2 linked regions of the Homo sapiens genome follow. The protein of the gene in region 1 purifies or fractionates together with the protein of each later gene. This does not show direct contact. Each region holds a gene or a part of one and is shown on either strand. Other genes may lie near its edges.

The links.
Region 2: the proteins of RPRD1A (region 1) and RPRD2 purify together in Homo sapiens (affinity purification with mass spectrometry; 2 studies listed by BioGRID and IntAct, with this or other methods). This does not show direct contact.

What each region holds. Positions count from the first base shown.
Region 1 is NC_000018.10:36,064,321-36,072,196, forward strand, and holds the start of RPRD1A (regulation of nuclear pre-mRNA domain-containing protein 1A), read right to left. Parts: upstream 3,240-7,876; 5' UTR 3,085-3,239; coding exon 2,934-3,084; intron 1-2,933. UniProt on the Homo sapiens protein: Interacts with phosphorylated C-terminal heptapeptide repeat domain (CTD) of the largest RNA polymerase II subunit POLR2A, and participates in dephosphorylation of the CTD by RPAP2.
Region 2 is NC_000001.11:150,359,814-150,367,146, forward strand, and holds the start of RPRD2 (regulation of nuclear pre-mRNA domain-containing protein 2), read left to right. Parts: upstream 1-4,333; 5' UTR 4,334-4,901; coding exon 4,902-5,106; intron 5,107-7,333.

The DNA.
Region 1 (7,876 bases):
GCTCCCTCTGGGCTGCTAGAGTGCCCAAGCTAGGTGCCGCAAAGTCCCGCGGCGAGTGCCATTGAGAGGTGAAGCCAGCTGGGCTTCTGGGTCAGGTGGGGACTTGGAAAACTTTTCTGTCTAGCTAAAGGATTGTAAACGCACCAATCACCACTCTGTGTCTAGCTCAAGGTTTGTAAACGCACCAATCAGTGCTCTGTGCCTAGCTAGAGGTTTGTAAACACACCAATCAGCACTCTGTGTCTAGCTAAAAGTTTGTAAATGCAACAATCAGTGCTGTGTGTCTCGCTAAAGGATCATAAAACGCACCAATCAGCACTCTGTCAAAACGGACCAATCAGCTCTCTGTAAAATGGACCAATCAGCAGGACGTGGCTGGGGCCAGATAAGAGAATAAAAGCAGGCCACCCAAACCAGCAGCAACAACCCGCTTGCGTCCACTTCCCTGCTGTTGAAGATTTGTTCTTTCACTCTTCACAATAAATCTTGCTGCTGCTCACTCTTTGGGTCCCTGCCGCCTTTATGAGCTGTAACACTCACCGCGAAGGTCTGCAGCTTCACTCCTGAAGCCAGCGAGACCACGAATCCACCGAGAGGGACCAACAACTCCGGATGGAAGGAACAACTCCAGACGCACTGCCTTTAAGAGCTGTAACACTCACAGTGAAGGTCTGCAGCTTCACTCCTGAAGCCAGCGAGACCACAAACCCATCAGAAGAAAGAAACTCCAGACATGTCTGAACATCAGAATGAACAAACTCCGGACACACCATCTTTAAGAACTATAACACCGCGAGGGTCCACAGCTTCATTCTTGAAGTCAGCGAGACCAAGAACCCACCAATTCTGGACACACTATGACAACCACTATCTTGGAATATGGTGTTAATCACTACTATGCATATTTTAATATAGGTATCTATAAACAAAAGAAGTACTGTTTTGCATGTTTTTAGACTTTACCCCCATAGCATTATTCGTCTGTACCTTGTTTTCTTAGCTCAAGATTTTGTTTGTTTTTCAATTCAGTCACGTTGTTTCATGCAGCTCTAGTCCATTCGTGAGAACTTTTCGATAGTATTACATTTTATTAATATCACAATTTATTTGTCCATTCTCAAACTAATGGAATGGTTTTTTTGTTTTCTTATTTTTTGTAAAGAAAAGGTTTCACTATGTTGCACAGGCAGGGTCTCACTTGTTTTCAATTTTGTTATTATGAAGCTGCAATAAACAATTCTTGAGAACAATACTTATTTCTAGAATATATTCCTAGAAAGAAAACTGCTAGGTCAAAGGATATATTTAATATATACCTCCAACTTCATCAACTAAGTTGATCTACAAAATAGTTACATATTTTTACATTCCCACCAAGTGGTATAAGAGTTCCTGTTTCTCTGCAACAATTATCCATATTGTCATATTATTTTGCCAAATTGATGAACATAAAGTGGTACCTCACTGGCTTACTTTTTCCTGATTTGTAAGATTAAGTATCATTTATTGACCTTTCAGGTTTCCTCACGTGAAATGCCTATAAACAGTACTGCCATTTTTTTTTTTTACTGATTTGTAATAGTTATTAAGAGAGTCTGGGTATCAACCCTATACTGATTACATGTGTTTCTAAATGCTCTCTGCAAAAACAAAAAACAAGATAAACCTGTTACCGATTCTGAAATCTAGTAAAATGTAAAAGCAAAGCTAATTCCTGACTTTTCAAAGTTCACAGCTACTTTCCAGACCTTTATATCAGTGTTTCTGAAACCTTTCCGTCCACTCACAGAAGATGAATTCCTCATTCAGGGCCAATACACACATACTTACACATAAACTGAAAAACAAGGCTGTAAATCAATTTCTTCTCAAGGATGGGTGACGTTTTCATAACCACAAACAATATACAAGGACAGATTGTCTCCATTATATACAGCCAACATTTTGGCTCACATTTTGGCTGTTACGTACATACATCATATAGCTTTCACAAGGTTCAGTAAGCAAGCGTCTATTTTGATTAATAACGGTTAAAACCTTTAACACTTGATAAAAAACCATCATATCCATCAGGATGTTTGCAACAATAATGAAGAGTGTCCACTCTACCCAATGAATTAAGAATTAAAGTACAAGCTCAGACTAAGCAAATGAAATTTTTTATTTTCAGTCGCACTAGGATAATTTTTTACAAAGTTGCTCTGCATACATGAACTGATTCTGAATATTTTAGTGACAGACATCTCAAAAAAGTTTACTTCATTTACAGGAACACTATCAAATGTTTTGCAAAACAAAGACACTGCATTAGGGCATATAATCATAGAATAGGAAAGGACTTTAGGTGACTTACTCTAAATCTCTCCTTTTCAGGTAAGGCATCTGCAACGCAGAAGTTATAAGAAACTTGCCCAATTGAGACCCTCTAAAATCTACAAATTCAGAGTCTTTTCCACTGCATTACCCATCTTCTTATATTAGACTTCTAAAACTATTCCTCTATTAATTTCACAAGAATAAGTTGCTGCGTTACAGAAATGACGGAAGTAACTCCCAAACCCACACCAATCTTTTTCTTTCCACTCCCCTACCTTCTCCCTCCCTTATCCTCCATTATCATTCACAGAATGAAAAAAATACCTGACCACCTGAATTTCTGGCCCTAATTGGGTGTGGAGTCCCAACCCCCTGCTACTGTTTCCGTGTTAAGCTAACCGGAGTTTTCTTTTTTAATTATTCATTCCTTTATTCAATAAATATCTAAGCCCAGACTTTGCAGAAGCGTGGTGCACGCAGCTCCTCCAAGCCCGCAGACCACCGCGCGCTGGCATCCCGACGCCGGGAAGCCGGGGGCGCTGGAGAAACGGGGTTCCCGGGGGCGCCTGGAGGCCGGCCGGGTGGTGGGAAGCGGCCGACATAAGCGGTTGACTCACCTTTCCGCAGCTCCCGCTCCCACACGGTGACGATGGGACGCGAGTGTTTACGGTGGTGAATGAGCCACAGGGACAAGGTCTGCACGCTCTGCTGCGAGTTGCTCAACTCCGACAGCTTCTTCTCCAGCGCCGCCTCAGAGAAGGCTGACATCCCTCCGACACCACGTTCACGCCGTCCCACGCGGTGGGGCCGAGGGGAGGAGAGTTTCGCCGCCCTAGCTGCGGCCTCGCCCCCTCACCCCACCCTTCCCCACGCTCTCACCACGGCCGCCGCTTCATCCAAGACCGGCCGCAAACCAGCAAGATGGCGTCCGGCCGGCAGTGACGTCACAGGGACCCACGCCCCGCCCCTCCCGCTGCAAGCCCTGGGAAAACGCGCGGCCGAGAAGTGGAACCGCCAGGCGGAAGGGGCGGAGTCGAAACAAGTGCAGGGGAGGCGGACAGGGGCGTGATGCCTGGGTTACTCTCAGAGGCATGGTGGGAGTTTGCCAGGCCTGAACCCTCCTTAATGGAAACTCTGTCAAAGAAGCAGTGATTACAGATCTCTACATAGGCATGTAAACTGGTATAAATTGGGGCAGGCACTTTAAAGACTATTTGCATGACCAATTACGGTTAAAAATACACCTTCCTAAATAGAGTATAGGATGGTGACCAGAGGCTGGGAAGGGTAGTGGGGGAGGGCTAAATAGAAGGACTAATAGAAGGACTAAATATAAATAGGACCTAGTATTTGATAGCATGACAGGGGACTAGAGTCAGTAATAATTTAATTGTACATTTTAAAATAACTAAAAGGATAATTGGATTGTTTGTAACACAAAGGATAAATGCTTAAAGGGATGGATACCCAACTTTGCATAATGCGATTATTAGGCATTGCCATGCCTGTACCAAAATATCTTATGTACTCCATAAATATATACACCTACTATGTACCCACAAAAATGAAAAATGAATAAAAATTTAAAAATTATAAGAATACTCTTTCCTAGCAATTTCACTAATTGCTGTCAGTGCTGGAAAAAACACCAGCATGTTTGCACCAGGAAGCTTATTCTAGGTGTTCAGTCCAACACAGTAACAGTGAAAAATTGGAACATTCACTGTTGCAGTCTACACAGATACGTCTATATTCCATAATACATGCAGCAGTTTAAAATATGGATTAATCCAAGATATGGTGGATTTGGAAGGGTTTGAGTGGGTTTTTATGAGGTTCTTTTTGAGAGAGGGCCTCACTCTCACCCAGACTGGAGTTCAGTGCCATGATCACAGCTTACTGCAACCTCGAATTCCTGGGCTCAAGCATTCCTCCCACCTTGGCCTCCCAAAATGCTGGGATTACAGGTGTGAGCCACCATGCCCAGCTGGATTTTTTTTTAATTACAGAAGCAAAAGTATAGTATACCACTTCTTGTTTAAAGGTATGTAGTTCATATGGGTTCACAAGTACGTAAACTCATGGCAAAGGTTTGGAGGAATACACACCACATGAATACTGGTCTCAGGGAGAGGATCAGAATTGGAGCCCTTAAATTGTGTCCATATTGTTTTCATTTTTACAAAAAGAATACGTGAATATATTACTTATATAGTTAAAAATTAATTACAGAAATCTCATTGTTAATCTAATGCATACACCATCATATTCTAAAATTTTTTTTGAGACCGGGTCTTACTCTGTTGCCCAGGCTGGAGTATGTGGTTCAGTCATGTTCACTGCAGTCTCGACCTCTGGGCTCAAGCAATCCTCCTCTGTGTCGGCCTCCCAAAGTGCTGGGAATACAGTTGTAAGCCACCATGCCTGGCCCTAAATATTAATACAAGAAACTTCCAGAAAGATACATAAGAAACCATAGGAATTCCTAAACTATCTTTTGACAAGCATCGTTCAAGAACTTTGCGGCCAGATGTGTGGCTCATGTCTATAATCCCAGCACTCTGGGAGGCCGAGGTGGGAGGATTGCTTGAGCCCAGGAGTTAGACACCAACCTGGGTAACATAGTGAGTCCCTGTCTTTACTAAAAATTTAAAAATTAGCTGGGCATGGTGGTATGCGCCTATGGTCCCAGGAAGCTGAGGTAGGAGGATCACCTGAACCTGAGAGGCAGAGGTTGCCGTGAGTCATGATTGTGCCACTGCACTCCAGCCTGAGCAACAGAGCAAGACCCTGTCTCAAAAAATGAAAAGGAAGGGCAGGGCACGGTGGCTCAAGCCTGTAATCCCAGCACTTTGGGAGGCCGAGGTGGGTAGATCACCAGGTCAGGAGTTCGAGACCAGCCTGGCCAACATGGTGAAATCCCATCTCTACAAAAAGTACAAAAATTAGCTGGGCATGGTGGTGGGCACCTATAATCCCATCTACTCGGGAGGCTGAGGCAGGAGAATTGTTTGAACCTGGAAGGCGGACGTTGCAGTGAGCCAAGATCGCGCCATTGCACTTCCAGCCTGGGCAACAGTGTGAGACTACATCTCAAAAAAAAAAAAAAAAAGAAAAGAAAGAGAAAGAAAAAAGAAAAAGAGAAAGAACTTCCAACAAGTAGGAACAGAATATGTATATCTGTGCCTGAGGTTCAGAGATATCGTTGTAGAGGTGAAGTTCACTCTTCCTTCACCTCTTTTCACTCCAATATCTATTCCTATCTTTACATTTCTTTCTTTCTCCATTATACATCTTTTTGTTTATCCAATCTATTTAGCCTAGTTTTTAACTTTAACTTAGTTCGAGTTTAACCTATCTTTTTTTTTTTTAAAAGGAGACAAGATATCGCTCTGTTGCCCAGGATGGAGTGCAGTGGCATCATCACAGCTCACCGCAGCCTCAACCTCCCAGGCTCAGGTGATTCCCCCCACCTCAGCCTACCAAGTAGCTAGGACTACAGGTGTACCATCATGCCCAGCTTATTTTTAAATTTTTTTTTTTAGAGATGGGGTCTCGCCATGTTGCCCAGGCTGGTCTTGAATTCTCAGGCTCAAGCCATCCTCCTGTCCCTGCCTCCCAAAGTGCTGGGATTATAGAACGTGAGCTACTGAGGCTGTCCAAACCTATCTATCCCCTGAGACCTTAAAAGTATCTTCAACAATATTCCATTCCATTCCACCAAAGACTACTTCCCATCTCCCAGTGTCTTCACCTGAGATTTCCACTCTTCTCATTCTCTATCTCTGTCTTCCTCTGTGTCTCAATTCTACCTAAAATTTCAGCTTAAATTCTGCCTTAAATTTCAGCTTTCTTTTCTTTCCACTCAGTCAATGTTAGATTCCTTCCTTGTGTTTTTTAATTACTGAATGCCTTATTTAGCACTTACACTACTAGTCTATGTTATTTACAATTTAATATATGTATTCTCTCTCTCCAGCTAGATTTAGCACTCCGTGACTCAGTCATAGCACCAACTCTTCTGTCTTCCTTGGTCCACAGTCTAATCTGGCTGTCCCTGCTCCAGGCTCCCAGAACATTCTATGTATGAATGTACCATGGCTTTTGGCACTAGGATGTTAGATCTACATTTATTGACGTTGTTACTTATAGCTATATTTTCAAAATATTGACTGTAACTATTTATACCTTTAGATACTTATGACTCGTTTTTATATCTTGTCTCTAAATTGGAAAGCAGGAGGTAAAATGGTCTCCATTCACAGAAGATATGATCTTAGATATAGATCTTGAAGAATTCACCCACAAAATTTAGAGATGATAAACAAATTCAGCAAAGTTGTGGGATATAAGATCAACACACAAAAATGAGTTGTATTTATATACACTGATAATAAATAATTTGAAAATGACATTAAGAAAAAAATCTTATTTACAATAACATCAAAAAAGGCTGAAATACTATGGAATAAATTTAGGCAAGGAAGTATAAGACTTGTATCCTGAAAACTACAAAATATTGGTGAAATATATCAAATACCTAAATAAATAGAAAGATATCCTGTGTTCATGGATTGGAGGATTTAATATTCTTAAGATGGCAATAATACCCCCAAGCAATCTTCAAATTCAATGCAATTCATGTTAAAATACCAATGGCCTTTTATGCAGAAATGGAAAACCTGACCTTAAAATTCATATGGAATTGAAAGGAGCCCTGAATAATCAAAACAATCTTGAAAAAGAAAAACAAAGTTGGAGGATTCACAGTTTCTTATTTCAAAAATTACTTCAAAGCTACAGTTATATCAAAACATATATCAGGCTAGGCGTGGTGGCTCACGCCTGTAATCCCAGCACTTTGGGAGGCCAAGGGGCTGGGGGCGGGGGGGGGGGTGGATCACAAAGTCAGGAATTCGAGACCAGCCTGGCCAATATGGTGAAACACCGTCTTTACTAAAAATACAAAAATTAGCTGGGTGTGGTGGCGTGTGCCTGTAGTCCCAGCTGCTCTGGAGACTGAGGCAGGAAAATCACTTGAACCCGGGAGGTAGAGGTTGCAGTGAGCCAAGATCGCGCCACTGCACTCCAGCCTGGGCGACAGAGCGAGACTCCGTCTCAAAAAAAAACAAAAACAAACAAAAAAAGCACACAAAACAGTGTGGTCTAGGCACAGTGGCTCATGCCCGTAATCCTAGCACTTTGGGAGGCCGAGGCGGGCGGATCTGTTGAGGTCAGGAGTTCGAAACCAGCCTGGACAACATGGTGAAATCCTGTCTCTACTTAAAATACCAAAAAATTCTCTGGGCGTGATGGCGGGCACCTGTAATGCCAGCTACTCAGGAGGCTGAGGCAGGAGAATGGCGTGAACCCAGGAGGCAGAGGTTGCAGTGAGCCGAGATTGCACCAGTGCACTCCAGCCTGGGTGACAGAGTGAGACTCCATCTCAAAAAACAAACAAACAAACAAACAAATAAACAAACAAAAAACCAGTGTGATATATTATTCAGCCATAAAAAGAGATGAAATAATAATGCATGATACAAGACAGATTAACCTC
Region 2 (7,333 bases), on another chromosome or scaffold:
AAAAAAAGTGGGCCGAAGACCTTAACGGACACATCATCAAAAAAAGATACAGAGATGGCAAATAAACATATGAAAAGATGCTCCACATCAGGCTGGGCACAGTGGCTCACACCTGCAATCCCAGCACTTTGGGAAGCCAAGGTGAGCACATTACCTGAGGTCGGGTGTTCAAGACCAGCCTGACCAACATGGAGAAACCCTGTGGCTACTAAAAATACAAAATTAGCCAGGCATGGTGGCGCATGCCTGTGATCCCAGCTACTTGGGAGGCTGAGGCAGGAAAATCGCTTGAACCTGGGAGGCGGAGGTTGCAGTGAGCCAAGATCGTGCCATTGCACTCCAGCCTGGGCAACAAGAGCAAAACTCCTTCTCAAAAATTAAAAAAGTCCATGCACAGTGGCTCATGCCTGTAATCCCCACACTTTGGGAGGCCGAGGCGGGTGGATCACCTGAGATTGGAAGTTCAAAACCAGCCTGACCAACACGGAGAAACCCCATCTCTGCTAAAAATACAAAATTAGCTGGGCGTGGTGGCACATGCCTGTAATCCCAGCTACTCAGGAGGTTGAGGCAGGAGAATTGCTTGAACCCAGGAGGCAGAGGTTGTGGTCAGCCAAGATCACTCCAGCCTGGGCAACAAGAGCAAAACTCCGTCTCAAAAAAATAAAAAAATGCTCCACATCATATGTCATTAAGGAAATGCAAGTTAAAACAACAATTAGATACTGCTACACACCTATTAGAGTGGCCAAAATCCAAAAGATTAACAACATTAAATGCTGGTGAGGATGTAGAACTGATGGAAATGCAAAATAGTAAATCCACTTTGGTAGGTTGATGATTTTTTCTTTTTTTAAGTAGCTGGGATTACAGGCATTCGCCAACATGCCCAGCTAATTTAGCATTTTTAGTAGAGACGGGGTTTCTCCATGTTGGTTAGGTTGGCCTCGAACTCACGACCTTAGGTGATCTGCCCATCTCGGCTTCCCAAAGTGCTGGGATTACAGGCATGAGCCACTGCGCCTGGCCGATTTCTTTCTTTCTTTTTTTTTTTTTTTTTGAGAGGGAGTTTCAGTCTTGTTGCCCAGGCAGTAGTGCAATGGCGTGATCTTGGCTCACTGCAACATCTGCCTCCCAGGTTTAAGCAATTCTTCCGCCTCAGCCTCCCAAGTAGCTGGGATTACAGGTGCCTGCCACCATGTCCAGCTAATTTTGCTTTGTTTTATTTTATTTTATGTATGTATGTATGTACTTATTTTGAGACAAAGTCTCACTCTGTCACCCAGGGTGGAGTGCAGTGGCGCGACCTTGGCTCACTGCAACCTCCGCTGCCCAGGTTCAAGCAATTCTCCTGCCTCAGCCTCCTGAGTAGCTGGGATTACAGGCATGTGCCACTGCGCCCGGCTAATTTTTTGTAATTTTAGTAGAGAGGGGGTTTCGCCACATTGGTCAGGCTGGTCTTTAATTCTTGACCTTGTGATCCACCCCACTTGGCCTCCCAAAGTGCTGGGATTACAGGTGTGAGCCACCGCACCTGGCCCTGTATTTTTAGTAGAGATGGGGTTTCACCATGTTGGTCAGGCTGGCCAGTTTCTAACTCTTGACCTCGGGCGATCCACCGGCCTCGGCCTCCCAAAGTGCTGGGATTACAGGCATGAGCCACCGCGCCCGGCCTTAGGTTGATGATTTCTTACAAAAGTAAACATATTCTTACCATATGATGTAACAATTGTGCTCCTTCGTGTTTACCCAAGGAGTTGAAAATATATTCACCCCAAAAGCTGTACAGAGATGTTTGTAACAGCTTTATTCATACTTGCAAAAATGTGGAAGCAACCAAGATGTCCTTCAGGTGAATGGATAAATAAAACTGGCACATCTGGACAGTGAAATATTATTCAGCACTAAAATGAAATGAGCTATCAAGCCATGAAAAGACATGGAAGAAACTGAAATGCATTTTTTTTTTTTTTGAGGTGGAATCTCATTCTGTTGCCCAGGCTGGAGTGCAGTGGCCTGATCTTGGCTCACTGCAACCTCCGCCTCCCAGGTTCAAGTGATTCTCCTGCCTCACCCTCCGGAGTAGCTGGGACTACAGGCGTGCGCCACCATGCACGGCTAATTTTTGTATTTTTAGTAGAGACGGGGGTTTCACTATGTTGGCCAGGCTGGTCTCGAACTCCTGACCTCGTGATCCACCCACCTCGGCCTCCCAAAGTGCTGGGATTACAGGCATGAGCCACCGTGCCCCGCCTGAAATGCATATTATTAAGTGAAAAAAGCCAGTCTGAAAAGGCTACATACTGAATGATTTCACCTATATGACATTCGGGAAAAGGCAAAACTATGAAGACAGTAAAAAGATTAGTAGTCGCTAGGGGAATAAGGGGGAGGGAAGGATGAATAGGTGGAACACAGAGGTTTTTAGAGCAGTGATACTGCTCTGTATGATACTGTAATGGTGGATACATGCACATTTGTCCAAACTCAAGGTATAACACCAAGAGCGAACCCTAATGTAAACTATGGGCTTTGGGTGATAATGTGTCAGTGTAGGTTTGTCAGTTGTAACAGATGTATCGTTCTGGTGCGTGACATTGATAATGGGGGAGGGTATTCATGTGTGGGGGCAGGTGGTATATGGAATTCCTTGTGCTTTCCACACAATTGCCGTGAATCTAAAACTGCTCTAAAAATAGTCTATAAAAAAGTGGGTCTTTGGCTAGAGTTACAGAAAAAAAAAAAATGTGGGGTCAGGACCAGGCATGGCGGCTCAAGCTTATAATCCCAGCACTTCGGGAGGCTGAAAGCAGGAGGACTGCTTGAGGCTAGGAGTTTGAGACCAGCCTGGGCAACATAGGGAGACTCCCCCTCTCAAAAAAATGTTGTTGTTGTTGTTTTGTTTTTTTAGCTAGGTGTGGTGGTGCAGGCCTGTAGTCCCAGCTACTTGTGCTGCTGAGGCAGGAGGACCACTTGAGTCTGGGGGATTGAGGCTGCTGTGCGATATGATAGTGCCACTGCACTCTAGCCTTGGCAGGGACAGAGCGAGACTGTATTTTAGAGCCTTTGCACTTGCTGTTCCTAATGCCAGCATGTTCCGCTCCCCGTCTCGCATATCTGCTTGGTTGCTTTTTTCTCAATGTTCAGATCGAGTTATTTCTTTCGAGAAGACTTCCTGGTTCACCATACCACCATTCTTATACTGGCGCGTGCGTGCCGTGCACACGTACACACACGCGCGCACACACACACACCCCTTTCTCCCTTACCCTGCTTCACCTTTTTACAGAATTTAATACTGTCTGAAATGTACTTGTTGGTGGTGTCCTGCCACTAAATCCCGGAGGGAACGGATTTTTGTCTGTTTTGCTCCCCATGATCTAAAACAGTACTTGGCACAAGAGGTTCAACAACTCGTTGAATTAATGAATAGTGGACATGAACTTGACAAAACAGGTTCCCTGCCTCAAGAGGCATGGCCGCAGTGAGGAGACGTTAAAAGAATTAAAACTGTATATGTTTAGTGGGAACACAGGAGCCTTTAAATTAGCTCAGAGGATTTACATAGATACCTGCGATAAAATGGTTCGTATAAGGTTCATATAATAGTTACGTAAGACTCTTGAAAACTGTAATGTATTATGCAATTTTAAGATTGTATCATAGCTGGCGAAAATGAGGTCACATCTTGCCATTCTTTTTTCGCCTCGAAAAATTTTATGAGGAAAATTTCCTTTCACTTCCTCATTTATTTCCTTTTCCTGTAACCTAAATGGTCAAGCGGCTGTGAATGTTATCTTCTATGGGCAGCAATAAATACGGTTTGGTGTCGGAGTCTGCGTAGTGAATGGCTCACTGGATCTGGCGCATGCGCATCTTTTGTGGTGCCGCAAGATGGCTGCCAGCCATTTTGTCGCGCGTTGCTCCTCCGAGGAGTTGGGGGCGATGGCTGCAGCCCCCTGAAGACTAACAGTGGTCTCAGTGGTGGGAATTTTCTGTCTCTGTTGTGTGAGCTGAACACACCCAAGAGAGCGGCCAAAAGCAGCAAAGGGCGGGGCAGGGGAACCCCCCCACCCGGCTAACCTTAGTTATACCAGCTCCCTCACCCATCCCTCCCAGTTTTTCCTTCCATCCCGTTACACGCTTATCTTCTGCGCAGGCGCAAAAATAATCGTAGCGCCTCCTGGGCCCTGGGGGCTTCAGAGCTCCTGCGCGCGCTTGTGGTTCTCCACTCCTGATTGGTCAGGTTGCCCCGCCATCACGCCTCCCTCTGCTTTCAAGGTTGAGAAGGAAGCAGGGGTAGGGGGGTGGGGCCAAGTGGCGCGTGCGCGATACTGTTGCTGCCCCTTTGCTGCTATTGCGTTGCAAAAAAAATCCTGACTAGGTAGCCTTGGACCTTTTCTGTGCTAGCGAGTCTAAAGGAAAGAAAGATTTCTGCAACTGAAGGGGCAGTCGGGTAGTATTACATTTAAGATATTAACGCCCGACCTGGCTCACAGGAGTGTGGGAACAGGGGCGGGGAAGGGCCTTAGCACTGAGAGCCGAAAAGTATAAAACGATTAGTTTCGGCGTCAGGCGTTTTGAAAGGCTTTGCAGGTCCTGTTTTCTGCGTAATTTTTCCGTGATTACTGACTGGTTTAAACACGACCCCTTGAACAATATTGATAAAACCTCCGAGACCCGCAGCCCCTCCTTGCAGCGTGTAGGAGCTGCCAGCGTGCCCAGCAGCTGGTGTTCCCGTCCGTACCTCCAGAAGAGCCCAGCGCGTGCACCATCCCCACCCCCTAGCTTCCCTCCCCACCTACGGCTTTCACGCACTCGCAGTGATTGTTTTGCCCGCTCCCGCCGCCGCCGCCGCCGCCGCCGCCAGAGGAGCAGCAGCGCTTGTGCAAACCGGGAAGATGGCGGCCGGCGGCGGCGGAGGCAGCAGTAAGGCCTCCTCCTCGTCGGCCTCTTCGGCAGGGGCTCTGGAGTCCTCGTTGGATCGAAAATTCCAGTCGGTAACCAACACCATGGAGTCCATTCAAGGCTTGTCGTCTTGGTGTATAGAGAACAAAAAACACCACAGTACTATCGTCTATCATTGGATGAAGTGGCTCCGGAGATGTGAGTGTTGGGGGTGACTAGGGAAGGGAAGACTGGGGAAATGGAAGGAAGTGTGGCCTGAAACGCTTGGGGTTTTCCCACGGAGCCGCAGCATTTGGTTGGGGTTGTTCACATTAAAGGTTTGACCCCAGTGGTCCCAAACCCAGACTCCATTCCTAGCCAGGATTGTCCTGAATTGCAGGAGACTCATTTCTTGGGTTTTTTAGCCATTGAATTGTTGTGACCTTGGGCCGTTGGGCCCAGATCCATGGAGATTTACGTATATTGTTTTTAATATTTCAGAGCCTTGTAAGGTGTATTGATTTTTCCGAACCTTCGCGGAAATTGTAGCGTCTGTTTATTTCTTACAGGCCTTGACGTGTTAATGATTTCTGGCTTTCCTGATGGTAGGCGAGCTGTGGTTTTAAGCAGTAGTAAATCCAGTGATGTTTAATGAGGAGTGCCTTGTCTGGATGAATGTATCTAAAACTTGTGATGTGTAGTAAGGAGAGCCTTACCTGGATGAATGTTAAGAAGCAGCATGAGCTCTACATAGATCTGAGGCACCACCGGGTTTTCCCTGTACCTGTGTTTGCTGCAATAAAATACAGGTTTCTTGGATACTGACCAGAAACAACTGCGATACAGTAGTCAGTATCATCGTTAATACCTTCAAATATAAAGCGTGTCCAGTTCCTCTTTTTTTTTGAGACGGAGTTTTGCTCTTGTCGCCCAGGCTGGAGTGCAGTGGCGCGATCTCGGCTCACTGCAACCTCCACCTCCCGGGTTCAAGCGATTCTCCTGTCTCAGCCTCGCGAGTAGTCGGGATTACAGGCGCCCGCCACCATGTCCGGCTAATTATTTGTATTTTTAGTAGAGACGGGGTTTCATCATTGTGGCCTGGCTGGTCTCGAACTCCCGACCTCAGGTGATCCACCTGCCTCGGCCTCCCAAAGTGCAGGGATTACAGACGTGAGCCCCCCGTGCCCGGCCCCGTTACTTTTTAATTACCTGAAATACCTTTTTACACAATTGAGTTGATCTCATGGGTAATGTGCACAGGAAATGTGCTTTTTGAATATGTAGTACCTTTTTCTCCAGTTATGTTTTTTTTGTCTTTATCCTGGAGATTTTTCCATTTTGCTGCTTTACTGCAGAAACGAGCTCTGTTAAAGCATGGATTGTTTGCAGAACGTTTCAAATCTTATAGGAGGAAGTGTGGAGAAGTTACTGTTTCCTGCTGAGAAGAGAGGGTTAACTCATACTCCATATACATCTATTAGAATTTTTCTTTGCTTCCTGCCTGCGGCATTTCACCAGTGAGACCCATCATCCAGTTATTCTGCCTTATTCCACTTCTGCCATTGCTCCTGTAGTGTTTTGATTTGTTTACCTTTTAGAGAACAGATAGATAAAACTTGCAAAATTATAGGCCCCATGCTTCGAACTATTTGTGTTTAAAGTTTTGGGAGGGATGTTTTGTGGTTCTTTGAATAATAATGCAGAGAAATTAGTAGATACCGGACAGAATTACCTGTGTTTACCAATAACCGATCAAAGAGTTATTTTCTTGCCCAGAGGTAAAATTATAACGTGCAAAAACATCAAATATGATAACAGTCATCATTGAAGACTCACATGTTAAGTATCTGCTATGTGCCCAGTCATCTCATTGTACCTTAAAATCGTCTGAGAAGTAGATTTTTTAATCACTGATTTACAAACGAGGAAACTAAGACTCGGAAATTAAGTTGCTTAAGGTTACTCAGTAAAATGGTGGGGTTAGGGTTTGACTTCATCATTAACTTTGTAAAATAATGTTTAACGTTCTTGGTATACCAGTGATATATTGCAAACAGTTCTAATGTGAGTGAGAGAACCTCTTCTCCACCCTATTTTAAAACATTTTTACTGACCTATGCAAGCATTTTACATTTCCTCACCTTGGGCTCTGGGGCTTTAACTGTATGGTTACATCATTTGCAAGAATAAGTTGGTCCCTGTCCCGTCTCTGCTGTGTGGGATCACAAGCGACAATTACAGTTTTTTTTCTAGTCAGCAATAATGAGATAAAATGAAGCCAGAATTTTTTACCTCAGCTGTTGTTGCTATTGTGCCTGAGCTTATTTCCTTTATTGATATCTTAAGAGTGAAAAAATGAATGCTCCAGGAGGGCAGTGTGTCAGTTGAAGTGCATTGTGTATAGTTTATATAGTTAAGTGCTTTTGGCTAAATATGATGTTGTTTT